Homo sapiens: one gene and its partners. The protein of the gene in region 1 purifies or fractionates together with the protein of each later gene. This does not show direct contact. Each region holds a gene or a part of one and is shown in the gene's direction. Other genes may lie near its edges.

Region 1 (4,765 bases):
CCTTAATTTGAAAGTACTTTATTTCCAAAAAATGCTAACAGTCATCTGAGCCTTCATCAAGTTGTAATCTTTTTGCTGGTAGGAGGTCTTGCCTCAATGTTGACGGCTGCTGACCGAACAGGGTGTTGGTTGCTGCAGGTTGGCATGGCTGTTTTAGTATCTTTAAACTAAGACCACAATGAAGTTTGCCCATTGATTGACTCCTCCTTTCACAAAATATTTCTCTGTAGCATATGATGCTGTTTGATAGCATTTGACCCAGAGTAGAATTTCCTTCCAAATTGGAGTCAATCCTCTTAAACCTGCTCCTGGTTCATTAAGTAAGTTTATGTAATATTCTAACTCCTTTGCTGTCATTTCAATAATATTCATAGCATCTTCATCAGGAGTAAATTCCATCTCAAAAAACTACTTTGTTCATCCATAAGAAGCAACACCTCATCATTCAGGCTTGATAATGAAATTGCAGCAATTCAGTCACATCTTCAGGTTCCACTTTTTAGTTCTCTTGCTCTTTCCACCGTATCTGTAGCTACTTCCTCCACTAAAGTCTTGAAATCCTCAGTCATCTATGAGGGTTAGAATCAACTTCTTTCAAACTCCTGTTAATGTTGATATTTTGACATTTTTTCCCATGAATCATGAATGTTCTTAATAGCATCTAGAATGGTGAATCTTTTCCAGAAGGTTTTCAGTTTACTTTGTCCACCCAGATCTATCAGAGGAATTACTCTATGGCAGCTATAGCCTTACAAAATATATTTCTTAAATAATAAGATTTAAACGTTGAAATTACTCCTTTTTCCATGGGCTGCAGAATAAATACTGTGTTAGCAGACATGAAAATATTAATCTCCCTGTACATCTCTATCAGAGCTTTTGGGTGACCCAGGTGCATCGTCATTGAGTAGTAATATTTTGAAAGGATCTTTTAGCAGTAAGTCCCAACAATGGGCTTAAAATATTCCGTAACCCATACTTTCAACAGATGTGCTGTCATCTAGGCTTTTTTCTATTCATAGAGAGGCTGAATAGACTTAATATAATTCTTAAGGGCCCTAGGATTTTTGGAATGGTAAAGAACATTGGCTTTCTCTTAAAATCATTGTCTGCATTAGTCCCTAACAAGAGAATCAGCCTGTCCTTTTAAGCTTTGAAGCCAGGCATTGACTGACTTCTCTATAGCTATGAAAGTCCTAGATTATATCTTCTTACAATAGAAGTCTATGTTGTCTTTATTGAAAATCTGTTGTTTGGTTTGGCTGCTTTCTTTTTTCTTATTTTTATTTTTTTGAGATGGAGTTTCACTCTTGTTGCACAGGCTGGAGTGCAATGGCACAATCCCCGTTCACTGCAACTTCTGTCTCCTTGGTAAGCCATTCTCCTGCCTCAGCCTCCTGAATAGCTGGGATTACAGGCCTGCGCCACCACACCCAGCTAATTTTGTATTTTTAGTAGAGATTGGGTTTCACCATGTTAGCCAGGCTGTTCTCGAACTCCTGACCTCAGGTGATCCACCCGCCTCAGCCTCCCAAAGTGCTGAACTTACAGGCGTGAGCAACCATGCCTGACCAGTGTAGCTACTTTCATTAATTTTGTTGGCTAGATTTTTAGGATGACTTGCTGTAGCTTCTGCATCAGCACTTACTGGTTCACCTTATACTTTTATGTTACGGAGACAGTTTCTTTCATTAAACCTCAACAACCAACCCCATCTAGTTTCAAACTTTTCTTCTACAGCTTCCTTCTCTCTCTCAATCTTAATAGACTTGAAGTGAGAGAGAGGGCCTTGCTCTGGATTAGGCTTTGGCTTAAGGGAATGCTCTGCTGGTTTGATCTTCTATCCAGGTCACTAAAACTTTCTCCTCCATATCAGCAATAAGACTGCTTTGCTTTCTTATCTATCATTTGTGTGTTTGTGTTCACTGGAGTGGCACTTTTAATATCCTTCAAGAACTTTTTCTTTTCTTTGCATTCGCAACTCAGCTAACTGGAACAGAAGGCCTAGCTTTTGACCTGTCTCAGCTTTTGGCATGCTTTCTTAACTAAGCTTAATCATTTCTAGCTTTTGATTTAAGTGAGAAAGGGGACTCTTTTACTTGAACAGTTAGAGGCCATTGCAGGGTTATTAACTGGCCTAATTTCCATATGGTTGTGTCTTGAAATAGGCCCAAGGAGAGGGATAGAGACAAGGAAATGGCTGGTTGGTGGAGCAGTCAGAACACACACAATGTTTGTCGATTATTTCACCATCTTATATGGGTGTGATTTGTGGTGCCCGAAAGAAATTACAATAGTAACATAATAGGTCACTGATGAGAGATCACCATAACAGATGTAATTAATAATAATGACAAATTGTGAAATATTACAAGAATTACCAAAATGTGAAACAAAGTGAGTACATACTGTTAGAAAAAATGGAACCAATAGACTTGTTTAATGCAGGGTTGCCACAAACCTTCAATTTGTAAAAAGAACAGTATCTGTAAAATGCTAAAAAAAAAAAAAAAAAAAAATAGGCAAAGCACAGTAAAACAAGGTATGTCTATGTAAGAAACTGGGTGAAATTATAAGAAAGGTATCTGATTTGCATAGAGCATATAATTGTCGTATATAGAAAGAAAAACTCTTCAAATTCCTGTTGATTCAATTGTGAACAGTATAATTTTTTCACATTATTAAATTACTCTTTTAGCCTGTGACTACCTTACAATTGAATTTGATAATTGGGCTTTGTAATGCATCTTATTATAGGCTAGTTATATTGCATACCATGAGAATAGAAACATATGTTGAAAGGAGACAAATTAGAATAGACAAAAATTATTACCTATTAAAAAGAAGAAAATGATCTCTTTTCCTAAAAAATTTATCTGATGTTATATGAATCTCATTGAGTTTACAAACTGTAGGTATTTTATCATAGGTACTTTATAACTTGGAGACCAATTTATTTTTTGTTTTTTTGTTTTGATGTATTACACAAAGATTTCCTGTTTTTTTCCAGGTAGGTGGTTAGAAAAAAATTATTAGTAGTTTGCTTTAGAGAAGGAAATAGCCTTACCTAATTGGCTTTAAGGTAAGAATCATTTTCATTAGTAAGATGGAGTTTGACAGATCTGGCTTTGCAGGAGAAAAATATGTATTTTAGACACTTTAGTGAATATTTTAGCAATCCTACTTTTTTTTTTTTTTTTTGAGACAGAGTCTCGCTCTGTCGTTAGGCTGGAATGCAGTGGCATGATCTCGGCTCACTGCAACCGCCTCCCGGGTTCGAGTCTTTCTGCCTCAGCCTCCCGAGTAGCTGGGACTACAGGCACATGCCACCACGCCCAGCTGATTTTTGTATTTTTAGTAGAGAAGCGGTTTCACCATGTTGGCCAGGATGATCTCTATCTCTTGACCTTGTGATCCGCCCGCCTCGGCCTCCCAAAGTGCTGGGATTACAGGCATGAGCCACCGCACCTTGCCTACTTTCTTCTTTATAAAAGAATAAGACTTGAGTAAGCAGTAGGTCATTATACTTTATTGGGTAATTTCCATGAGGCATTTGCTGGAGTCCTTATAACTGGTTTTTGTGTAAGCTGTCTTGGTTTTTTAACAATGTGCTGTATCAAATTGATAAGCTTCATAAAGTCTGTATCATAATCTCAACATATGATAGAAAAGCCAGTGCATTGTGGTTTATAATCTCTGAATTTTCTTTCTAAATCTACTAGAATTATACTAACCTTAGAAAGTTCATCTATATTTCACCTCTTTCCTGATTGTAGAGGTAATTATCTCTCAGCTATCACATGTTGTTGAAAATTAAATGATTTAACTTTTCCAGGTACTTCTATAAAATCAGAACTATTAACACTTCAAAGGTCTTATTAATAAGTGCAAGTTTTCTTCAATTATTTTTGTTATACTGATGCCTTTTCCAGCAATTGTTTCTCAATTTGCAGGGGTATAGAGAGTTAAAAATAACTTTTGTTTGCTCTGAAAAACATCTTTTTAATATATTCTAACATTTTAATTTGGCTTTATATTACAGAAACAAATTGCAACCCAAGTCTACTAAGCATAATTGGCTACAATACAACAAGCACTGTCCCAAAGGAAGGGCAGTCAGTCCAGTGGTGGCATGCTCAAGGAATTATAGGACTAATTCTCTTTTTGTTGTGTGTATTTTATTCCAGGTAGGAAAAACTATGGAATTTTTTTCTTTAAACAAGAAGTCTAGCTGTTTATTTATGAATCATTTCTTTTAAAAATGTTCTTTTTTTTCTCTCCTCCTAAACTCTCTTTCATACAGCATCCGTACTTCAAACAATAGTCAGGTTAATAAACTGACTCTAACAAGTGATGAATCTACATTAATAGAAGATGGTGGAGCTAGAAGTGATGGATCACTGGAGGATGGGGACGATGTTCACCGAGCTGTAGATAATGAAAGGGATGGTGTCACTTACAGTTATTCCTTCTTTCACTTCATGCTTTTCCTGGCTTCACTTTATATCATGATGACCCTTACCAACTGGTACAGGTATTTATATTTCATGAAAACTCTGGATGTGTGAATTCTGATGGCATTTTATGATTCTCTTGTGAAACCATGATGTGATATGAAGTACTTTTTATCCTCTGATATATTTCAAAATGTACAGCTAAATGAATAGTGAGATCAGCATGAGAAATGCAGTCTTTACTTCCTTGCTTTAACAGTAACACAAACATTGAAATAGTTCCAAATCTTGGAGAGATTAAAATAAAAATT
Region 2 (5,545 bases), on another chromosome or scaffold:
TGCTGTGCGAAGGTTTCTAAAGACATTCCTCAATCAAAATCAGGGGATAAAGCAGTCGCTTGAATCACCTAGGCCTGTCCTTTACCTGGACACAAGTGGTACAGTAGGGAGAATTCTGAATAGTGTCACCCAAAGCTTTGCATAGGCCTTAGGCCAGCAGGTATTGCACACCTTTCTCTGCTATTCCTCGTTACTGATATTCTGATCCCCACTGTGCACCCCAGTAAGCCACCAAGGTAAACTGCTTGCCTTGATAGTCTCTTTCAGCACTCTGCACTCTACACACTCTTGAATGTCAGTTAGGTGCTGTTATGTGGGAATCTACCTGCTTACCTAATAGACATAGCCTGGACACAAAGTTCTCTGGTTTATGACACTCCCATTGTACAGCTGCCTCCACAGCTCCTTGAAATTCTGGATCAGGGATTGGACATCTGACAGGTAGTTTTGACTGCTTGGTATCACAGAGTTCAATCCAACAAAAGGAAGACATGTTCCCTTGTGTGTAATGAATCTGCAGGTCACTTATTCAAACTATAGTAGTCTGAACTCAGATGCTGGATGTCAGGTCCCCTCAGGATTGTCTTCCTGCGTCTTGACTGCAGCCACTCCTACACAGGGTGATTTCCTGGGCTGGAGCCAGTTTGCAGGACTATGAGACTATATAGACTACAAAGCCTAGCTAGGCCCCAGGTCGGCGGCAGAGTAAGCCCCACAGCAATGCGTTAAGCCTTCATGAAATGAGTGTTGAATGAATGAGGTAGTGATTCAGTGTATATTTGATCCACTGCAACAGGTGGGAAGGGGGCAGAGGCAGCTACTTCCTAAAATAACCCTTCTTCAGACTCTTAAAGAACTGATCCTTGTTTTGAATTAAAATCTATCTTCAATTAACTTCCAGTCCTTTGCCCTACAGATAATTCGTAGTGCCACATCAGTTCTACCCATTCTTTCACATGAAGACAGATGTCATGTTCTGAGTCATCTTTCTTCGCCTCCTTCCAGCAGCCCTTATCTGGTGGCTCACATTTGAGCGAGCTCCAATATGTCTCTGTAGAATCTCTCTCTTCTTTTTTCTTTTCTTTTTTTTTTTTTGAGATGGAGTTTCGCTCTTGTTGCCCAGGCTGGAGTGCAATGGCGCGATCTCGGCTCACCGCAACCTCCCCTCCCGGGTTCAAGCGATTCTCCTGCCTCAGCCTCCCTAGTAGTTGGGATTACAGGCATGCACCACCACGCCCGGCTAATTTTGTATTTTTAGTAGAGACAGGGTTTCTCCATGCTTGTCAGGCTGGTTTTGAACTTGCGACCTCAGGTGATCCGCCCGCCTTGGTCTCCCCAGGTGCTGGGATTACAGGTGTGAGCCGGCCCGGCCTGTAAAATCTCTTCAAAGTGTGGTACATGGAGTGCAGTACTCCACCTGTGGCCTGACTGATATGCAGTACAATATTATCACTAAATTGCTACAGACAGTGTGCTTTTCATTGTTGTCACAGAAATGTATTTGGTTAGTTATATTTGTTCATATCTCATCTGACTTTCCAGTCTTCCCTCACTTTGTACAGTCATATTTGCCGAGTCAAGTAAAAGTTATAACATTTAGGACACAATGCCCGACTTACTATAATTACCATTATTATCTTAGGATCATTACAAAACAGAATTACCACTTAGCTCTCAGGCCCTACCTCCTTCAGCCTCAGAAACGTTAACGCTACCTTGCATTGCTGCTTTTAGCACCGCCCCTAATAAGCCCCGCCCCTGGGGCTTCCGCGGCGGAAGCCTAGCGTCCGCCCCACCCACCCCGAGCCCGAGGCGGGGCTGTGGATGTAGCCGCTGATTGGCTGACTGGGGCGCAGCTTGACGGCGTCGGGCTGGAGAGCCGCAGTCCCGGCTGCAGCACCTGGGAGAAGGCAGACCGTGTGAGGGGGCCTGTGGCCCCAGCGTGCTGTGGCCTCCGGGAGTGGGAAGTGGAGGCAGGAGCCTTCCTTACACTTCGCCATGAGTTTCCTGATCGACTCCAGCATCATGATTACCTCCCAGGTGAGTCACCGCCTCCCGCCCCGACACCCGTCCGCCTCCCTTCACCGAATCGCCCTCTCCGGTCCTCCGCGGTGCGGGCTGGTCCGGGGTCTCGCTCCTCTCTTACGCGGCCTGCGCCAGTCACTCTGGCACACAGAGAGGGTGTGCGATTTGCTGCGGCCGGTTCCCTCAGCCCCGGCTGTCAGGAGGCTGGCCTGCGGCCGTCCGCGTCCCCACCCGGCATCCATCCCCGGAATTTCGGTCCACTTTTGGAAGCGGTCCGCCGACCTCCAGGCTAAGAGCCGGCGCCGCCAGCTAAGGCGGCGGTTCTAGGAGCTCCTCGAAGCTTCCGGGCTGCGCCAACTGATCCTGGACTGGGGAAGCCTGTGTGGTTCTGGGCGCGCGGTGTGCGACGCGCCAATACTGGATACTGAGGACACGTCAGTGCAGGCTTTGCTGTTAGATGTCAAATCCTGAATCCGGGTGTGGAGAAATTTGCTGCTTCAAAGTATCAGTATAAGGTAATACCTATGCTTGAAAGTATAAGGTTTCGTTTTTGCACTGACACCTCGTCCTTTATCCTCTGCTTAGTTACCCACCTTTTCCGGATGTTTTTCTGACCCTCATTTCTTCTCCATTGGCCACCTTCATTTGTTTGTACAGTCAACAAACATTTATCGACCATTATATAAAGCTCTGAGCGTAAAAACATGTAAGACACTGTCTCTGCTCAATAGAAGTTTCGTCTAGTTAGCCTCTTGCTTTTACCATGTAATCTATTGTTAATTATTGTTTCTTCCTAGCATTCATCATAGCACTGGCATCATTTATGTCTGTGTTTCTGATTTTGTTTTTTGAGATCCTGCCTTGTTCATAGCTGTATCCCCACTTCCAAATGCAGGCATTCAATAAATAATTGTTGGCCAATATTTGTGAAGCTCAGACTGCCTGTTGACCTTCTTCCCCTCATCTTTCCAATAAAGATTTTGTGTGTGTGTGTTTGTTTTTGCTTGTTCTTTCTCTCAAACGGCAAATAACAGAAACAGTTACCTTTGGGGGCTTAAAGTGAACTAAATTTGTGTTCTTTGATTCAGTTTTTGTATTGCTTCATCCTAATACTCGTCTCCGTAGAGCGGAGCATTGTCCTTTTCTCTTCAAAAACTTGTTTACAATATTTAAGAAAATAAGAAAGAAGGAAAAGCCATCCATAATCCTACCGCTCTAATGCAATAGTTTTTCATTTTTAAAATTTACCACCTTTTCTATAGTTTTCATAAGTATTGTTTTTATTGGCTGCATAGTATTCAAATGTATTAATGTAAAAAAACCTAGACATGTAACTCTTCTGCTTAAAACCTTTCTAAGACTACCCAGTGCCCTTGGTGACAACTCAGGATTATTTTTAGCCTTAGTACCAATTTAAGAAAAATAACAATATTTAATTAGCTTTTCTTTTCACTTAGAATAAAGATAAGAATGTCAGTAGAAAATTGGCTTTGCATTGCAGCCTCTACGATTTTTAGCATGGATATAATTGATACGTTGAACCAAGGAAGTGGCTTTCTAATTTTGTATGCCTTATAATCATAGACTTTCACTTCACACATGTATCCATATGCAGTAATTAATTGTTAAACCTGGTTTTTACAAATGTGGAAGAAAGACCCAAAGATTCCTTTGCATGGAATGTTCTCTGTTCAGATATTTATGTGGCTACTTTATCATCCTTTCGGTATTAATAAAAATGTCGCTTTAGGAAGGTTTTACCTGACACCCTGCCCACAACCAAAGTAGCTTTCCATTTCGGCTGCCTTCTTCCTCATTTCCATGTTTTATTATCTTCTTGGCATTTATTACTATGGTTCATTTGTATATTCATGTGTTTGTTATCTGTCCATGAAGTCCAAGATACTGTCTGTCTTGTTCTCTCCTGTATTCACCAGCATCTAGATCAGTTGCAGGCACATAGTAGAGTTGTAGTGAATATTTGTTTAATAAAAAGCACCTCTCTAGAGAGGTGTGGTTACCTTGGAAACACCACCATTGCCCCCTGCGCCCCTCCCTGCTCATTTTTTCTGTTTTGTATTAACTGAAAGGTTTATTTGAAATGAAATCTGAAATCAGAGGTCACGTATTGAATCTTGCTCACCACGGCACAGGATGAAGTTCAAACTCCTTTACATGGCTTTTCAGGTCCCTTATTGATGGGACCCTGGCTCTTCTCTCTTCAGCTGTGGCTCCAATTTATTCTTTAGACTTCCTGAACTTCTTTTAGTTCCCTAACCTGGCCATGCTATGGTGCCTCCAGATTTCCACACAGTGTGTTTTCTCTTTCTGGGCCTTTTCCTCATATCCCTCCCCTTTAAGCCTTCAGATCTCAAGTTGAACACCCAAGAAGCTTCCCCTAGACTGGACTAGATGTCCCTATACCTACTGCCATAGTACCCTTCACCTACTTCCCCTGTAACAACACTACCACATTGTTTTGTAATTACTTGTTTATCTCCTCCATAGATTATAAACTCCTTGAGAGTAGCATTCATGCTCTCATTTGCCATTCTATCCCTTGGACCTGGCACATATTAGGCACTAATAAATATTTGTTAAATGATTAAAAGGGTGAATAAATGATCCAAGAAAGGTGTCTTTTATAGTTAATTCTTTAATAACTGTCCTGCTGATGGCCATCTTTTTTTTTTTAACAGTAGCTAATTTTCAACCCAGAAGTCACTTTTTAAAAAGCAACTGTTAACTAACTCATGTTTTAAGCCCTCTATACCGTCATAAGACTTATCAGTTCCAGAGTACACTCTTAAGTCCTAAGGTCAAGACTCTGTACAATTCTGAAAGTATTAAGTCTCATTTTTAATAAGAAGCTATACGCCTTCCATTTTATTTGCAAAGCTATTTGAAATTGCATTTTGCTTCTGCTTTCTTTTTGGATCCTCTATAATCTTGCCAGAATTTGTGTTTACTTGGATGTAAATGAATTCTCCAGCTACTTGTGTGTGTGTGTGTAGTTTAAGTCTTTTTTTTTTTTCAACTTTTATTTTATTTTAGATTTGGTACTTGTGCTGGGTATATTGTGGGAGCTGAGGTTTGGGGTACAAATGATCCGGTCACCCAGGTACTGAGCGTAGTACTCAATAATTAGTTTTTCAACCCTTCCCCCTTCTCCCCTCCCCTGCCCCCAAGTAGTCTCCAGTTTCTGTTTTTGCCATCTTTATGTTGGTGAGTACCCAATATTTAGCTCCCACTTAGAAGTGAGAACATGTGGTATTTGGTTTTCTGTTCTTGGGTTAATTTGCTTAGGATGATGGCCTCTAGCTGCATCTGTGTTGCTGCAAAGGACATAATTTTGTTCTGAAAGTCTTTTTAAGCTTTCTTTGTCAATGTGAAAGGAGGCCACAATGAAATATTAAAGGTATATATCTGTTTCTCTTTTCTTCCATTCCCCTCCCCACCATATAAACTTAAAATTTTTGCTTGTTTTCTCTTCCATTTCATAGCAATCTTGGTGATTTTT
Region 3 (4,591 bases), about 35 Mb from region 1:
GGAAACTCTTCCTGGATGAGAAAGAGATTCTTGTCCCTCTTCATCTGCTGCAAAGGACAAAGCCCCAGAAGAATAATATGCCAAAGTCGGCCTTAACATCTATCATCCCTATAACCTCATCTCCCTGGTGCTCTGACCTTCACTGGGATGGTATAAAGCAGAGGCTCTAGAGTATCCCTGGAAATGAGGAGCAGCGTACACTAACCAGTTTGGTTTAGAGTAATTCTCTCCTATTTGTAATTTTTATGAAAAACAATTTAAATATGGCCTTGGACTCATGATATTTTTTATGTCACAATAAAGTGGAAATTTAAAGTTACAAATCCCCAAAAAGGTCCTCCATCAACTCCTCATAGGATGTATCCATTTTTAGCTCTGATTATTGCAGTTAACTTTCCAAAGTGCTGGGATTACAGGTGTGAGCCACCACGCCAGCATATTTACTGTGAAAGTTTAAAATCTGATTTGAAAGCTGCTTATTATAAGCAATATAATTTTTTCTTTAACGGCCCCAGAATGTTTAATGTTACATAATATGAATATATATTTTCAAATGTAAAAAAAAGCCTTTTTATATATAAACATGTATAAAAGAATAAATATAAATAAGAAATTAATTGGGGTGGCAAAGTACATTTAAAATTTTGTGATGTTTTTGTCAAAAACGATTTGAACAAATTTATAGGAAAAAAACAAACAACCCCATCAAAAAGTGGGCGAAGGATATGAACAGCCACTTCTCAAAAGAAAACATTTATGCAACCAACAAACATATGAAAAAAAGCTCATCATCACTGTCATTAGAGAAATGCAAATCAAAACCACAATGAGATACCATTTCACGCCAGTTAGAATGGTGATCATTAAAAAGCCATCATTCTGAGCAAACTATCGCAAGGACAGAAAACCAGACACCACATGTTCTCACTCATAGGTGGGAATTGAACAATGAGAACACCTGGACACAGGGCAGGGAACACCACACACCCGGGCCTGTCGTGGGGTCGGGGGACGGGGGAGTGATAGCATTAGGAGAAATACCTAATGTAAATGACGAGTTAAAGGATGCAGCAAACCAACACGGCACATGTATACATATGTAACAAACCTGCATGTTGTGCACCTGTACCCTAGAACTTAAAGTATAATAATAATAATAATAATAATAATAATAATAATAATAAGGCAGGAAGCAACAGATGCTGGAAAGGATGTGAAGAAATAGGAATGCTTTTACACTGTTGGTGGGAGTGTAAATTAGATCAACCATTGTGGAAGACAGTATGGCGATTCCTCAAGGTTCCAGAACCAGAAATAACATTTGACTCAGCAATCCTATTACTGGGTATATACCCAAAGGATTTTAAATTATTCTACTCTAAAGACACATGGACATGTATGTTTATTGCAGCACTATTCACAATAGCAAAGACTTGGAACCAACCCAAATGCCCATCAGTGATAGACTGGATAAAGAAAATGTGGCACATATACATCATGGAATACTATGCAGCCATAAAAAAGGATGAGTTCATGTCCTTTGCAGGGACATGGATGAGTTGGAAACCATATTCTCAACAAACTAACACAGGAACAGAAAACCAAACACCACATGCTCTCACTCACGAGTGGGAGTTGAACAATGAGAACACATGGGCACAGGGCCGGGAACATGACACACCAGGGCCTGTTGGGGGGTGGAGGGCTAGGGGAGGGATGGCATTAGGAGAAGTACCTAATGTAGATGATTGGTTGTTGGGTGCAGCAAACCACCATGGCACATGTATACCTATGTAGCAAACCTGCAAGTTCTGCACATGTATCCCAGAACTTAAAGTATAATTTAAAAAAAAACAGTTTGAAAACTTCCCTGAAGTAAAAAAAGTATCCTTTGAGGAACAATGTAACGATGAGCTCAAGTTCCACAGGAAAGAGAAAATTAAAATTTATAAAGAATTTATAAATATCAAACTATTTTCATGTTTTCCAGGAAAAGTGTGGCTTTCTCATTCATTAACCAATAGCATAATATTTTCCAGGAACCTTCACTCAGAAGAAATGCTGTGGCCCTTCCCTTTACCAACAGAAAATGGAACACAAGAGACCACATAGCTGAACAAATTATAGCCTCCTTACAAGTGAGAAACCTTCGAGGCTACATAGTTTTCAGCCAAAGGAAAATAACCAACAGCTTCTCCACAGTGTAGACTGAAACAAGGGAAACATGAACATCACAAACTGTACCACAGAGGCCAGCATGGCTATAAGACCCAAGACCATCACTGAGAAGATGCTCATTTGCATGACTCTGGTGGTCATCACCACCCTCACCACGTTGCTGAACTTGGCTGTGATCATGGCTATTGGCACCACCAAGAAGCTCCACCAGCCTGCCAACTACCTAATCTGTTCTCTGGCCGTGACGGACCTCCTGGTGGCAGTGCTCGTCATGCCCCTGAGCATCATCTACATTGTCATGGATCGCTGGAAGCTTGGGTACTTCCTCTGTGAGGTGTGGCTGAGTGTGGACATGACCTGCTGCACCTGCTCCATCCTCCACCTCTGTGTCATTGCCCTGGACAGGTACTGGGCCATCACCAATGCTATTGAATACGCCAGGAAGAGGACGGCCAAGAGGGCCGCGCTGATGATCCTTACCGTCTGGACCATCTCCATTTTCATCTCCATGCCCCCTCTGTTCTGGAGAAGCCACCGCCGCCTAAGCCCTCCCCCTAGTCAGTGCACCATCCAGCACGACCATGTTATCTACACCATTTACTCCACGCTGGGTGCGTTTTATATCCCCTTGACTTTGATACTGATTCTCTATTACCGGATTTACCACGCGGCCAAGAGCCTTTACCAGAAAAGGGGATCAAGTCGGCACTTAAGCAACAGAAGCACAGATAGCCAGAATTCTTTTGCAAGTTGTAAACTTACACAGACTTTCTGTGTGTCTGACTTCTCCACCTCAGACCCTACCACAGAGTTTGAAAAGTTCCATGCCTCCATCAGGATCCCCCCCTTCGACAATGATCTAGATCACCCAGGAGAACGTCAGCAGATCTCTAGCACCAGGGAACGGAAGGCAGCACGCATCCTGGGGCTGATTCTGGGTGCATTCATTTTATCCTGGCTGCCATTTTTCATCAAAGAGTTGATTGTGGGTCTGAGCATCTACACCGTGTCCTCGGAAGTGGCCGACTTTCTGACGTGGCTCGGTTATGTGAATTCTCTGATCAACCCTCTGCTCTATACGAGTTTTAATGAAGACTTTAAGCTGGCTTTTAAAAAGCTCATTAGATGCCGAGAGCATACTTAGACTGTAAAAAGCTAAAAGGCACGACTTTTTCCAGAGCCTCATGAGTGGATGGGGGTAAGGGGTGCAACTTATTAATTCTTGAACATACTTGGTTCAGGAGAGTTTGTAAGTATGTGTGGTCTTGTTTCCTTGTTTGTTTGTTTGTTTTGTTCTGTTTTGTTTGAGGATTGTTATTTGGCGTGCTGTTTTCTACCTCTGGTCTTATCTGTGATACATAATTTCAAATAAACATTATCATACAAAAACAGAAATTTTGTAGAAGTAATAATAAGATGAAATACTAAATACCTTTTATGGGTTTTTTTTTTTTAGCCATTTCAGTTACCCTGCAATTAAAGAATGCCAAAAATATCTTTATTTGCAGAATTTCTTATTACTTATAAATTAAATACCTGATAATGCCCTCCATGGCATTAAATCTGAGATTATGGCTCTATCTGCGTACATATTCCAGTGGGAATTGCATGACTACATAAAGAATTAAAAGAAAGTGATGTGCTGTCATCTACTGCTTGCAGACCTGAGCTAAAGTCGTTTGCTGTAGCACTGTGACTACATAGCCTATTCATTTCAGGTAAAAATAGTACAGCTGGCTTGTCCTTTTTAGTTCATGATTAAATAAACTTCCTCTTTTTCTAAAATGGAAATACCTGGAATAAATGCACTGGCACTTTTCTATGTCTTTTACTATGAATATAAAACATAAAGCAAATAACAAGTCATCTAAATCTACTTTGGTCAGTGTGTTGCAATATTACCTGACAGACACATTGGGCCTCCTCCAATTCTAAAATCTATCCCAGCTAAGCCACCCATATACACTTTCACTGTAGCAGGACAAAGGTAGGAGTACATGTCAAATTTGGGAAACTTTTTAAGAAGCTTAATGAGGTGCAGTGATCAAATGACAGAATATATTATCTGAAGAACTTCATTGGAGACTATTACTCATTAAATTACCAGTTGCAGCCGGGCGTGGTGGCTCACGCCTGTAATCCCAGCACTTCGGGAGGCCAAGGCAGGTGCATCACCTGAGGTCAGGAGTTCGAGACCAAGCTGGCCAACATGGTGAAGCCCCATTTCTGCTAAAAGGGCAAAAATTAGCCAGGCATGGTGGCACGTGCCTGTAATCCCAGCTACTCAGGAGGCTGAGGCAGGAAAATGACTTGAACCTGGGAGGCAGAGGTTGCACTGAGAAGAGATCATGCCACTGCACTCCAGCCTAGGCAACAGAATGAGACCCTGTCTCAAAAAAAAAAAAAAAATTAC
Region 4 (4,765 bases), on another chromosome or scaffold:
GTGAGAACCCATACTCCACAAAAAGAAACAAATTGTGCACATAAGTGTCTAACACGGTGCCCGGCTCTGTCACCCCCAGAATAGGACCATGTCTCCAGTTTCTACCAATGAGCTGCCGTGAAATAAGACTTGCTCCCCCAACTCAGCCCCCAGTACCCTGAAATTATTTGGGGTTTTCCAAGCCCTTGTTTGCTGTCCTTCATATGGACAGCAGAGAGTAAGGTGAAATCAAGGTCCTCCAGACTAGGCACCTGCATTTGTTTCCTTGTCTGCTGTAAAAAATCACCACAAACTGTGTGGGTTAAAACAAGAATTTATTCTCTCACAGTTTGGAGGCCAGGGTCTGAAATCAAGGTTTCAGCAGAGTTGGCTCCTTCTCGAGGCTCTGGGGGAGAATCTGTTCCATGCCCCTCTCCACCTTCTCGTGGCTGCCGGGAATCCTTCATGTTCCTTGACGTGTGGAGGCTTCACTCTGCTTCTGGCGTCACTTGGTGTTCTCCCCACTGTGCCTGTGTCTGTCTCCAGATTGTCTTCTTCTTATAAAGATACCAGTCATTGAGCCGGGCGCTGTGGCTCACACCTGTAATCCCAGCACTTTGGGAGGCCAAGGCAGGTGGATCACTTGAGGTCAGGAGTTCGAAACCAGCCTGGCCTACATTGTGAAACCAGTTTCTACTAAAACTACAAAAAAAAGTTAGCCAGGTGTGATGGCAGGTGCCTGTAATCCCAGGTATTTAGGAGGCTGAAGCACAAGAATCTTTGAACCTGGGAGGCAGAGGATGCAGTGAGCCGAGATAGTGCCACTGCACTCCAGCCAGGGCAACAGAGTGAGACTCCATCTCAAAAAAAAAAAACAAAAAACAAAAAACAGTCATTGCATTAGGGGCCATTCTAATGCAGGAAGACTTCATTTTAACCTAACTAATTATTTCTGCGAAGACCTTATTTCCAAATTAGGTCCTAGTCATAGGTTCCAGGTAAACATGAATTTAGGGGGCAGTGGGAGGAAACTATTCAATCCAGTACAGCTCCCAGTCTCAAAGCCCTGAGGGAGGACAGGCATTTCTTCTTCCAGAAGAACCACCTTTCTAGAAGAGCTGACGATGGAGATGGCTAACATCTGTGGAGCATCCACCAAGTGCCCAGCCCCAGGCTTAGGACTTAACATGTGAACCTTATCGTGCTAAAGTCTCACCACGGCCCCAGTGGGGTCAACAGCATTTAAATCCTTCAGTTTATAGCAGGGTAAACAGAGGCACTTGAGTGGCCCAAGGTTATACAGTGAGAGGGACAGAGCTGGGCTTGGTTGTTGTTGCTGGTGGTGGTGGTGGTGGTTTTTTTCCTCCACACAACACACATGTGCACAGCTGGGCTTTGAACCCAGGCCTGAATGTCCCCAGAGCTCTTAACCCCCTGGAGGTCCTGCCAGTCCATGCAGAGGCCGAGGCTGGACCATGGGAGGCCTTTGACGAAGCACAGCCATTAAGCCCAGCTGGTACACAGGTGATGGGCTTTGACGCCAGCCTTGTCTCCTCCCACTACAGGCCCGGTACCCCCAGTTCATCAGCAGGGTGAGAGGACGAGGCACCTTTTGCTCCTTCGATACTCCCGATGATTCCATACGGAATAAGCTCATTTTAATTGCCAGAAACAAAGGTAAGGGGTCAGGAGTGGCTGCTGAGTTTCATGAGCATCCAGTATCTCCTGCTGTAGCTGCCACATGTTGCTAGGTACTCAGCAATATTTTGTGTGGGGGGCAGGTGGTACACAGGTCTGAAAAGAGCCTGAATGCTCTTTCTCCAAAGAAGAGAACATTACAAATGGGATTTCTTTATCCATTTATTTACTCAACAAGCGTTCGCTGAGGAGGTGAGTTGTAAGTGGACACTGGAGACAGTTACAGTGATGATGAAGACCATCAGAGCCCCTTCCTTCAGGAAGCATGCAGTGTAGCAGGAAGGCATGGCTTTACACATGGCATTTCACAACCAATCCATTGCAATTTTAAGTCCTGGGAAGGAGAAAACGCAGCTAAGAGAGCAGATAGCTGCAGCAGTTGGTGAGGGTAGGAAATCAGGGCAGGCTCCCTTGAGGAAGTAGCATTTTACCCTAAGTCTTGACAAACAGGGATTGGCTGGGTGAAGAAGGTAAGGAAGAGCATTCTGGGCGGAGGGAAGGGTGCATGCGATGGCCTGAGGTGGGATGGAGCTTACAGAGGTGGTAAAAGGGAAAGAAGGGGGCGTGAAGGCGAACGGTTGGGAGGGGATGAAGCTGGGGGAGGAGAGGCCAGGCCCGGGTCGCATGGGCCTGCAGATCAGGCTTAGCACTCCAGACTTCATCCTAGGAGCTGTGGGAAGCCACTGAGGACATGTGTGGCAGGGGTAAGGGCAGACGCTGTGGTGAGATCAGAGCACGTACTCTATGTCAGGCACATTGTCAGTTCTTCTTGTGCCATCTTACAGAATCCTTGCAGCAGCCTCAGAAGGGCAGGGATAATCAACCTCCATTTTAAAAATGAGAAAACGTGGTCTCAAAGGCATAAACAGGCCGGGTGCAGTAGCTCACGCCTGTAATCCCAGCACTTTGGGAGGCCGACGTGGGCAGATCAGCTGAAGTCAGGAGTTCGAGACCAGCCTGGCCAACGGGGCAAAACCTCATCTCTACTGAAAATACAAAAATTAGCTGGCCGTGGTGGCGGCACCTGTGATCCCAGCTACTTGGGAGACTGAGGCAGGAGAATGGCTTGAACCTGGGAGGTGGAGGTTGCAGTGAGTGAGACTGGGTTGCCACTGCACCCCAGCCTGGGTGACAGCGCGAGACTCCATCTCTAAAAAAAAAAAAAAAAAAGGCATAAACAACCTCGACAAGGAAAGGACACCAGCTGTAACTGTGAAGTCACCCTTTAAAATAAGCAGAGCCTGTCCCTCCTCCGTAATAGCTCAGCACCTCACACATGCTTCCGACTCAGCCTGTGCTTTTGCAACTTATTTGCTTACCTATTTTCTTTTCCCACTCCTCCATGACTTTGTGGAAGGCAAGGACTTTATCTCAGGATTTCTCTATCACCAGACCTAGCTTGGGGCAGCAAAGCAGGCACTCAAAGGAGAGAGGGAGGGAGGAAGGGAAAAAGGAAGTGTGGAGGGAAGGAAAGGAAGAAGAGAATGATGGAGGAGATGAATGAGGGGAGAGAGAAAGGAAATGAAGACTGGATGGGTGGGTGGTAGGAAGGAAGCCCGGGCTTCCATGATGGAGGATGATGGATGGATGGATGGATGGATGGATGAGCGTTGCCAACAGGCATCACTTTCCCCCCAGCTCTCCCAGCATGTGACTTTGAGAAACCACGCTCCTCACCTACCTCCTGCCTCTTTCAGGTGTGGTGTTGGGTGGCTGTGGTGACAAATCCATTCGTTTCCGTCCCACGCTGGTCTTCAGGGATCACCACGCTCACCTGTTCCTCAATATTTTCAGTGACATCTTAGCAGACTTCAAGTAAAGAAGCCATTTCCACTACAGTGAGAAAGCCCGGATCCCAACAGTTGTCAAATTGATTAGTTTGCCTAATTCATGTTTTCACTTAAAAGTATCAGAGGTGAATGCACAGTGAAGGGTGATTTGTGGGGAGGGAGCATTTTTGGTGGTCTTGGGGGAGGGGAGGGGAGGGAAGGGCTGGTGTTGATTTTCCTCCCTGCAGAGCCAATGGTGCACATTGGTTTAAGCCCAGAGATCCTGCTTGAGCCCTGGACTCATCTTGGGAAGGGCCATGGGAGGTCCTGGCTAGAGTTCTGCCCAACCTTGACCAACCCCAGCAATTTTTCCAAAAGCCAGTCAAGGGCATTACATTTGTTCCTGGGACTGGCAGCTGGGCCTCCTGGGTGCCAGTCCATCTCAAGTGCCATATTCTGTGATCACGGATGTTGGCTCCCCCTCGCCCTATGCAAGCAAACACACTCTCACCTCCTCTCCCAGCCTCCCGGAGCTCTGAGCACGCCCCACGCATGGTGCAGGAGGGACTGGACAGATCTGAGGAAGGCCGTAAAATGGGGACAGGAGGATTCAGCTCAGGAGTAAGGGAAGAGGTCCTCTGGCCCCCTGAAGATGAGAATCACCCCTCTCAGTGCACCTGGGGATCCCCCTAAACTGTGAATTCTGCCCTGGACAGGGCTTTGCCCTTGGAGGATCCCCAGGTGGCCTTACCCGTGATTCTTACTCGGCATCCTCCATTCCCCAAACTCCCTCCTCCCTGTTAAATGTCAACCTAGACCTGGACCTGGGTGGGAGGAAACTGTAGCCTGAGTGTCCACAGGGACACACGTGAGCCACAGGGCTAGAAGCACAGGCCCGTCACCCCAGGAGGAAAAGCCCAGGGTCTGGGGCAGCAGAGCCATCGCATCATGTTTCCCAGGGCAACTTGAGGTCTGACTTTTGGCTCCCTCGCCCTAAGAGGCTCTTCCTCTCTTTTGCTCATCCACCTTCACACCACTTGTGAGCTGACCCCCAGGAACAGCTTGGCTGTTCCACCAGAGCAGAGGGAATCATTGCTGGACTGGATTTCTTCTGGAGGGAAGCACCATGAATTAAAGGTGCCAGAGCTCCATGCATGGAAAAGTGGCCTGTTGGTTCAACGTGGTTTCCTTGTACTTGATCCTCCTGAAATGAGAGATTTTCCTGAGATGACTGAGTATGGAGATTACCAGGCAGATGATACCGAAATGCTTAAAGGGGCTGTGGCTGAGGCTGTAGCATCTCTGCTGGAGGTGAGACA
Region 5 (4,463 bases), on another chromosome or scaffold:
TGCTGGGATTACAGGCATGTGCCACCACGCCCGGCCTCAATCTGGTTTTAACACTTCAACAGATGTATGTAGTTTTTGTATCACCATAGCACCTAAAAAGTACCCCCAAAGTTAAATATACTGTCATCTCTGTGTGTGTGTCTGTAGTCAGTGCCAGGTTTGTATGTGAATTTGAGGACCTTCCCTAGTCCCCTTGTCCCCCAGGCATCTCCTGCTCATAGGTTTGGAAATGACTGATAGAGGCTTCATCTCTAGTCCAAGAAATGCTGGACGGTGTATCCATCCTACTGTTCCATCTCTCTCTGGTCCTGGAGCTTAATGTTTATGAAATTGTTCTGAAAAGGCAAAGAATGAGTCAACTTCCCTAGAAAAACTCCCCAATGATCTGCTTTTCTAAATTAAAATCCTTCATGAGCCTGTTTTTATTTTCAGCCTAATAAATCTCTCTAGGTAGTAAGTTGCATAAGTTTACTATGCCAGTGGTATTTTCTTGCATTTGTCCAAAACTGTCCTTCAGATATTACATGTTGCTCTCTGTTTCAGTATTCCAGCATTTAATGACCAGTTTTCCAAACCCATTAACCATTACACCCTGCAGTCAGTCTATTGGCAGATACTACCCAAAACTGTCAGAGAAGATAACAGTGTGGGGCCTTGGATCCAGACAAACCTGGGCTTACATTTCCATACTGACACTCATTAACCTTGCAAGCGTGGGCAAGTTCTTCACCCCTTCTGAGTCTGTTCTTTATCTGCCCACCTGTCTCAAAGAGTACCTGGGAAGTACAAAAGAGGTAACTCATGAAGCCCTCAGGCTTGGAACGTACCAAGTCCTTGGTAGATATGGCTCCTCCCTGCTTCCCTCTTTAAATCACTTGTTTGTTCAAGAATTTAACTGAATGTTCTTATTTGTATTAGTAGGTGGCAAGTGGGAGAAACCATCAGAAATTTTGGAAATCAAAGGACAGAACTGGGAAGAACAAGTGAATAGTCTGCCTGAAGTTTTCAGAAAAGCTGGTTTTGTTATCGAAGCTTTCACCAGACTACCATACCTGTGTGAAGGCGACATGTATAATGACTACTACGTTCTGGATGACGCTGTCTTTGTTCTCAAACCAGTATAAACACGTGGAGGTCGAAGTCTTCAGAGTCCGCACCCTCCGGGATGTGCCCTTGGAAGAGGGTCTGTGTTCACAATTACGTGAAGGGAGGACCCTTGGGGACCGCCATTCTAAATATCATGTAGGAATTTAAAAAGCCAAAATACTAATTATTTCTTTGTAGTGTGTAAAGGAATGTTTTTAAAAGACAAAAACCCAACTCTTTGTGGATTTTTATCAACTCTTTACTCAGAGCCACTCTCCAATGCAGGTCACACTCCAATTATGATGGAAGATATTTTTTATACTTAATTGCAGTAGGGACTCATTCCCAGACAAAGCAATAGTCACGACTTCATGGAACCAATCAATGGATTGTTTTTTGAAGACTGGCAATAAAGCTGTCCATTCAATTCCAAATACTGGTTTTAAGGTATAGCCACTGATATTCTTTCATGTTTAGAAATTCTTTCTGTTATTATTCAAGAAAATGTTTTTAATCATGCTAATAAACTTTTTTGGAGATGACTTTGGCATCATGTTTGAATTCATATAAAGCTCCCCTAGCATTTTTTATTGGTTTGGCTTCAGGAGTACCCAAATAGTAGCATTATGAGAATGACGCAGACAATTTGAATAGGGGGGAAGGAAGGCTTCAGACTTGGGGGAAGGGGAGATTATTGCAAATTGCAGTGAACACTGAGTCAGTAAAAAAAAAAAACAGAAACAAAAACCCAGCCTCATTCAGATACAGAACTTCAGGGACCCCTCCCCCCACCCCCCCAGTTAATGCTGCTGTGAAAAATGCAAAATAACCTGGTTCTGACTTTGTGATCACTCATGTCCCATACACTGAACTTTGTTTTTTTCTGGACAATCTCAGGTTCTCAGAATTGAAACATTCAGTTTTGTCTACTGACAAAATGCAACTAAAAATGTTTTAATTCAACTTCTTACTCTACACTTATATACCTCTCTCCCAGAGCTTGGCTCTTCCCTGAAATCCTTAAAGGAGTTTATTATTTGCCAAGAATATGGTTTGATGAAGACCGTGTCAGACTCATGCATTCTGGAATCCGTGAGTGCCTCCAACCATAAACCCAGAAATGCTGCCATAGAGGAACCCATTAGCAAGATCAATAACCATCGTGGATATTCCAAAGAGCAGAGCATTTAACCCAGAATCTGAAATCTCAGTAATAACAGAAATGTCAATATGAGATTGTGGTTATTAACAATATGTTATCCTCACTACTTTATTTCTTTTTTCATCCAGGTGTTTCATTAAGTATTCTCATTTATATGCTCATAGAAGTCATCAGATCAACACATTCACTCCAACACCTGGGTATAAAGGCGAATTAAAACCTGAAGAATTACTTTATTATTCATTAAGAACTGCATTCCCACATCCTCACACCAATATCTTCCACTGTTACTGTGCAGTCATAATAAGAGTTGGGTTATGTGATTTATGCAAAATTGTTATTGGTGTGTTCTAATGATTTTTTTCCAGGAATTCAAGTAAGTGAAGTACAAATACTTAGCACCATAGATTGTAAAAATAGAAAGAGGAAATGAGAAAACTTAATGTCGTTCTTGTACAGTTGAGTTTTGCTTCTTTATAAACTGTCTGTTAAAATCAGGGGTTGCTGTTAGACTGTCAAGCAGAAGTGATGGATGTTCAAGGAGGCAGGTTGCCCCAAAGTGTTTTCTAACTTTCAAGTAGAGAACTTTATGCTCTAATAAGAAAAATACAACTCATTCTTAACCACCCCCCCAAAACAGAGAAAACACATACATTTATGCATTTTAAAGATAAAAAGTAGTTTCTCAAAAAAATCTGAAGTTCTCTGAAAACCAGCTTATTAAAAGTGCTGTTTTGTGGTGAAAATTGAAACCAAATCCACTCACATTTCCTATCGGGTCTTGAAATTCTTGGTGGTGTGTCACCATTCCACTAGATGGCAGTGTTGCTTACTGAGTGTCAATGGCTTTTTTCCCCGTAAATGGAATCATGTTTTTCTCCCCCAAAGTACAATAAAGCTGCCTTGTCTGCACCATTCCTCGTGTAAGTGCTTCATATCAAGTTAAGACTGTACTAGAGAAATTAAGAAGAGCTTTATTTGTGGTAAAAGCAAGCTAACCAATTGACCTTAAAGGTTGAAATGCAAGCCACACCTCTGATTCCTAGCTCCCTGCACCTGCATTTTAAGCTCCTAAAGTGCTCAGACCACTGATCTCAGAGAAGGGGAGGAAAGGAGGTACAGTGCCCTTAGTCATTTATCCCTTGTACAGAGTAGTTAAAAGCAGTACTGTATTTTCTGCCATCCAGTGTGACCTGTCATCAGTTTTTACATGGTTGGCTTTTAACAGAAAAAAGTTGAGTTGGAAAATAAAGTGTAGATGTTTCAAGTCTTCCTGAGCAAAGCTTTGTTTTCACTTGGTTCTGAGTATAGTATTAATAGGCTATACTGCGTATGTTATTTACAGTATTAATGAAGCAAGATGTTTTCATTAATTGCTTCCCACTACTTGGTTACTGATGGAGGTGTTACATGATCCTTTTTCTCCAGCAATGTCAGTATAGTATCATGGGCTTCCAGTGACTAAAGTGACCTACCATGTTAGTGCAGATGCTTAAGCACCCCCAGTTACCTTATATCCAGTGCTTCCGCCGGCTAGAAGATAGTGCATGGAATCAGGGCAGCCTGGACTGAGTTGTACTGTCTAGGAGTGCACTGAGCACAAAACTGGGCTCATAAGTAACTTGAGACAAATCAGGACTATGTTGCCTAGGCTGGTCTTAAACTCCTGGCCTCAAGTGATCCTTCTACCTTGGCCTCCCAAAGTGTTGGGACTGCAGGTGTTAGCCACTGTCCCTGGCCTAGCACTCCCTTTATCTTGCAAAACTGAAACTATGTTCATAAACACAACTCTCCATTGTCTCCACCCCACCCTCTAGCAACTATCATTCTACTTTCTGTCCCTTTGACTACTCTAGGTAGTCATGATCCGCCCCATGATCCAGTCACCTCCCATATAATTGGAATTACACAGTATTTGCCTTTTTGTGACCGGCTTATTCTTCTTTTTTTTTTTTTCCTGAGACAGAGTCTCACTCTGTTGCCCAGGCTGGAGTGCAGTGATGCAATCTCAGCTCACTTCAACCTTTGCCTCCTGGGTTCAATCAATCCTGCCTTAGCCTCCTGAGTAGCTAGGATTACAGGCGTGCACCACCACTCCTGGCTAATTTTGTATTTTTAGTAGAGATGGGGTTTCGCCATGTTGGCCAGATTGGTCTCGAACTCCTGGCCTTGTGATCCGGCCTCCTAAAGTGCCAGGATTACAGGCGTGAGCCAC
Region 6 (4,765 bases), on another chromosome or scaffold:
TATGTAAGCATATAAAAGCACCTGTGGTTTTGTCTGCAAAATAGAGTCGATGTTACTTTAAAAGGATATTATGGGGTTTAACAGAGTTTCCTACTGGTATTGAGATATCTAATGGCTTCAGACCATATTAAGTATTGCTAGCAAAAAGCTATAGTGTGATAAGCATTATTACTGTAGTAAAGAATGAATGGTGCTTTCTTTTCATCTCTATTGCTCTGAGGGATGGGATATTAGTTTTCCTTCAAAAAAAGCTTCTATCTTAATTACAGAAATGCAAAGATGTCTGTAGAAATGAGTATTTTTCATTAGGTTGCTGGGTGCTTCCCACAAAATTGGATTTCTTGTGGTAAGTGAGGAAGGGTAAATGGGTAGTGACTAGGCCACTGGCATTGTGTGCCACAATTATATGCCAGGCCCTGGGATTAGCATATATCGTCTCGTTTAATCCATAAAACCCTGTATATTTGGCTCTGTAATAATCTTCTTTGAACAGGTTAGAAAATGTAAAATAAAATCATTTAATTGGCTTGTATTTAAATAAAACAGCTGGTAAGACTTTCTGAATGAGGACAGCTGCAGTGGGAATAGTAAAGTGCAAATGGATGAATACAACATACATTTAGGTGTGAGAACTAAACAGCCTTGGTGATCAATTGGATATGGGTTTGAGCAGATTTAGGGCCAGGAGTTATTTAGGATGGCTCCATGGTTTCTGGCTTGCAAATCACACATAGAGTTATTCCATTCCCTGAGATAGGGGATATGTGAGGAATATATGTGGGAGAGGAGATTATGAGTTTGAGCTTAGGCATGCTGTTTGAGATGAGTGTGAGATATGCCAGGAGAGAGATTTAACGGGCTACTGATTATGAGGATTAGGAGGCTTAGAAGATAGGAATGGACTGAAGATAAAGCTTTTGGGGTCATCAGTTACAAATTAATTATTAAAGGCATGGATAAGTGTATAATATTTCTCAAGGGCAATGCGTAGAATAGAAGATGAAAGGGCTATGTGTGACACCCAGGGGAACAACAGCCTTGAAGGGGAGGGCAGAGAGAGAAGCTTACAGAAGGGACTTGATAGGAGTGCCCAGAAGTGAAAAATCCTCAGGGTACACACAGTTTCATTTTAGAGTTTAGTGGTGCCATTTCTTTGTGAAATAGCTGTTACAATATTGCTCCTCCTCTACATCTCTCCTCTGTCCTTATTGTGTTGAATGGTATATTTTGCATTTCCATTGTGAGAAGATATAAAACCATTTCATTTAAACTGCCAGTACATGTTGTATGGCTGACATGGGTATTTGTACAGTTGTTTCAAAAATTGCAGGCAAGTTTTGACAGAAATACTGGTGAAATCTTCAAAATAACAAACGCTTATCCTTTACAACATCCTGAGGCTGGAGACAGGGGAGATAGGGCCTATTATAGTTTTTTCTTCAACTAGTACTTTTATTTCAGGAGTCATTCTTAATTACAGATGATAGTAACTTTGAAAGCTTTATACACATGTATACCTCACCAAAATGTAGCTCAAATAGTCTAAGTAGGAGTATTCATGTAAAACAAAAATATCTTGGTAAACAGACATTTTTATCATGGAAGTTTATATTGTTTATACAAAACTCCTCAAATAACATACCTATGACTAGGATAAAGTAACTCATGTTTCTGGATACATTTCATGATTATACAGTTGTGTTTATTTTTTCATTTTTGCAAGTATATACTGTAACAACTATAAATATTTGATTAATAGGAGTGTCAACAGACTGAAAGAACCCTTATAAAAATAACACTATAGTTATGTCAAGTGAATTTAGTTAATTTAGTTAAGCTATATAAACCAGCAATGAAGTTCCTGGTTTTCTCTCAATTTTAATGTAAGTTGAGATAAGAATATTTCAAAAGGTACTTAGTAGTCATAGGCATGTTCAGAATTAAATTAGAAATGTTAAAGATTTTTTTTTAGCTGGGCATGGTGGCACGCCTGTAATGCCAGCTACTCGGGAGGCTGAGGCGGGAGGAGAATCACTTGAACTTGGGAGGCGGAGGTTTCAGTGAGCTGAGATTGTGCCATTGTACTCCAACCTGGGCAACAAGAATGAAACTCCGTCTCAAAAAAAAAAAAAAAAAAAAGAAAGAAAGAAAGAATTTTTATGGAAAAGTAGTGGCAATATATTTGAAGTAGTTGTTCAATAGAGTAGTAATAAAAACACAAATTTTAGGTAGATTCTAGTTTCAAATATGGAGTAGAACTTGCTCAGTTCTTTTTAGCATCAGACCAAAATTAGTTTTCTTATTTCAAGCAAAAGAAAAATAAAGCATAAAATATTTGGAGTACTGCAAAACTCCAGTGTATTCTAGATTCCATGGCAAAACTAATCTGTATTCCTTGAGATAAATTTGCATAACTAAAATTGTTAGAGTATCCTATTTATTTCTGGGTTTTTTTTTCTAATCTATGATTGGTAAATTGACATCTAAAATAATTCAAAACATCTTCAAAGAGCCTTCCCAAAGGCTTTCTTACAGATCTTCTAATCTTATACTTCTTTCTAGTTTCTGTCTATATTTTGTATTAAGTATAAGGTAGGTTGCTTTTTTTGCCTCTTTACTAAATAAATGGGGGTATGAATGTTTTTGATTTTATTTGTATAATGCTTCATATCACATAATTTTTAGAATTCCATAATCATAATGCCTTGGTTTAAGAATATATTAATTTTACTTAGATTTAAACATATAGCCATTTAAGGAATTACATTTTTAAAAAATAAAATCATTTCTTTGTTCTTTTACTTATTGATCTCACTATATATCAGTAATAATTTTTCATGGGGGGGATAGGCTGGTTATTTTCTATATCTTAAAATCTGATTTTTTTATTTGTTGTAGGTTTTACTGGGATTTAATAATGCTTATAATGATGGTTGGAAATCTAGTCATCATACCAGTTGGAATCACATTCTTTACAGAGCAAACAACAACACCATGGATTATTTTCAATGTGGCATCAGATACAGTTTTCCTATTGGACCTGATCATGAATTTTAGGACTGGGACTGTCAATGAAGACAGTTCTGAAATCATCCTGGACCCCAAAGTGATCAAGATGAATTATTTAAAAAGCTGGTTTGTGGTTGACTTCATCTCATCCATCCCAGTGGATTATATCTTTCTTATTGTAGAAAAAGGAATGGATTCTGAAGTTTACAAGACAGCCAGGGCACTTCGCATTGTGAGGTTTACAAAAATTCTCAGTCTCTTGCGTTTATTACGACTTTCAAGGTTAATTAGATACATACATCAATGGGAAGAGGTAAGATGCATCTTTTTCTTTTTTAAATCTATATCATGAAATTGTTAATTATGGCTGTTTTACAATGAACAACTGTGCAATGTGTAATGAGTTTTATGAAATTCAAGTAGAAAAATGTATTCGACGACTCTTTTCCATGCATAAGTGATATATTTGTATCCCTAAAATATATGATCAAATAATGGATTTGAATGAACTGAAAAAAATAGTGATCGTTTTATGCCAATTTATTTTATTTTTAAATAAATGCACTTTAATCAGCAATTATTATCTTGATCAATACAACCCCTTTCCCACCTTGGTTTTTTTTAATCTAATATAAATACATCAAGTACCATTATTTTGATAAAGATGTGTAGGGTCTGATTGCTAATCTGGCACATCATTAGCTCTGTGAGATAGTGTGGTTTTTGTATCCTCTAATATTGAAGTTTCATTGAATTCATGATTGGGTAAAACAGATTGTTTCTTTATTTCCAAATTGTATATATAAAGGCTTTGATTTTAGCATATTAATTTTGCTTATTGTTATGCCTTGCCTATAGTAACTTATTTTAGTTTCTCCCTATTAGTTCATTTCATAATACTAAAAAGGAACATATTCATGAGGGACATTAGTACATAGAAAACACAAAGAGTATAGTGAATAAATGGAGTGAATCTGACCAATCAGGCCCATATTTTGCTGAATAGAGCATCTGTTGTTAGGCAGTGGGTGGGACCTGAGAGGGCTCAGCCAACTGGAGTTTCCAAAGATCTGAGTTAAACCATCATCAAGCAAAGGAGTTCATATCCCTATCTTCAAAGTCTGAATATTAACCATTTTGACTTCCTTTTCTTCCTAAGTCTTTTTGTATTAATTATAACCTGAATTTTATAGTCTGCATAAGCGTAAGAGTCCAAAAGACTTGTAGAATGCCTAAATCGACACTAATGAAAGTCATATAAAGTCATATACTGGCTATAGAATATTGCTTTCCTCCCTACAGAAATACTTTTTAGCATTTTCAAGATAAATTATGTTTTTAAATATGTCATAAAATGGAAGTTCTGTTTGATTTCTGTGAGGCGGTAGCAGTGTTTTTGTATGTGCTTGTCAGTGACATTTTGGTTCACAGGATTTCAGGAAATGACATGCAATAATAAAACACTGCATAATACACTGATAAAAAGGCATAAAAATGGATCATTCTTAAAATATAGATATGGGATATATTTAAAATCAAATGAAGCACATTTGAGAAATCAGATTCATCTTGTAATTTTTCTCTATATAGCACATTCCATCTAAAATGGAATAAATGTTCAGTTCTCAAAGCCTTTTTATGCTAATTTGAGATTAATACCAAACCAAGATGATTCTTGCTAATAATTGCTAATATTTATTGAAGGCTTATTACACGTCAGCTAGTATGTTTGATTCTTTACATATATTAGCTCACT

What was found.
Region 2: the proteins of SERINC1 (region 1) and GPR89B purify together in Homo sapiens (affinity purification with mass spectrometry, with the first as the bait; one large-scale study listed by BioGRID). This does not show direct contact.
Region 3: the proteins of SERINC1 (region 1) and HTR1E purify together in Homo sapiens (co-immunoprecipitation; one large-scale study listed by IntAct). This does not show direct contact.
Region 4: the proteins of SERINC1 (region 1) and ABAT purify together in Homo sapiens (affinity purification with mass spectrometry; one large-scale study listed by BioGRID and IntAct). This does not show direct contact.
Region 5: the proteins of SERINC1 (region 1) and METTL9 purify together in Homo sapiens (affinity purification with mass spectrometry, with the first as the bait; one large-scale study listed by BioGRID). This does not show direct contact.
Region 6: the proteins of SERINC1 (region 1) and HCN1 purify together in Homo sapiens (co-immunoprecipitation; one large-scale study listed by IntAct). This does not show direct contact.

Annotation. Positions count from the first base shown.
Region 1 is NC_000006.12:122,446,543-122,451,307, reverse strand, and holds part of SERINC1 (serine incorporator 1), read left to right. Parts: intron 1-4,042; coding exon 4,043-4,187; intron 4,188-4,303; coding exon 4,304-4,534; intron 4,535-4,765.
Region 2 is NC_000001.11:147,926,539-147,932,083, forward strand, and holds the start of GPR89B (Golgi pH regulator B), read left to right. Parts: upstream 1-1,881; 5' UTR 1,882-1,998; coding exon 1,999-2,040; intron 2,041-2,251; exon of another isoform or gene 2,252-2,540; intron 2,541-5,545. UniProt on the Homo sapiens protein: Voltage-gated channel that enables the transfer of anions such as iodide, chloride, bromide and fluoride which may function in counter-ion conductance and participates in Golgi acidification.
Region 3 is NC_000006.12:87,013,111-87,017,701, forward strand, and holds the end of HTR1E (5-hydroxytryptamine receptor 1E), read left to right. Parts: intron 1-2,039; 5' UTR 2,040-2,224; coding exon 2,225-3,322; 3' UTR 3,323-3,569; downstream 3,570-4,591. UniProt on the Homo sapiens protein: G-protein coupled receptor for 5-hydroxytryptamine (serotonin). Also functions as a receptor for various alkaloids and psychoactive substances.
Region 4 is NC_000016.10:8,777,935-8,782,699, forward strand, and holds part of ABAT (4-aminobutyrate aminotransferase, mitochondrial isoform 1 precursor), read left to right. Parts: intron 1-1,544; coding exon 1,545-1,656; intron 1,657-3,315; coding exon of another isoform or gene 3,316-3,374; coding exon 3,375-3,496; 3' UTR 3,497-4,765. UniProt on the Homo sapiens protein: Catalyzes the conversion of gamma-aminobutyrate and L-beta-aminoisobutyrate to succinate semialdehyde and methylmalonate semialdehyde, respectively. Can also convert delta-aminovalerate and beta-alanine.
Region 5 is NC_000016.10:21,654,309-21,658,771, forward strand, and holds the end of METTL9 (protein-L-histidine N-pros-methyltransferase isoform 1 precursor), read left to right. Parts: intron 1-918; coding exon 919-1,124; 3' UTR 1,125-3,163; downstream 3,164-4,463. UniProt on the Homo sapiens protein: Protein-histidine N-methyltransferase that specifically catalyzes 1-methylhistidine (pros-methylhistidine) methylation of target proteins.
Region 6 is NC_000005.10:45,643,742-45,648,506, reverse strand, and holds part of HCN1 (potassium/sodium hyperpolarization-activated cyclic nucleotide-gated channel 1), read left to right. Parts: intron 1-2,898; coding exon 2,899-3,322; intron 3,323-4,765. UniProt on the Homo sapiens protein: Hyperpolarization-activated ion channel that are permeable to sodium and potassium ions. Displays lower selectivity for K(+) over Na(+) ions.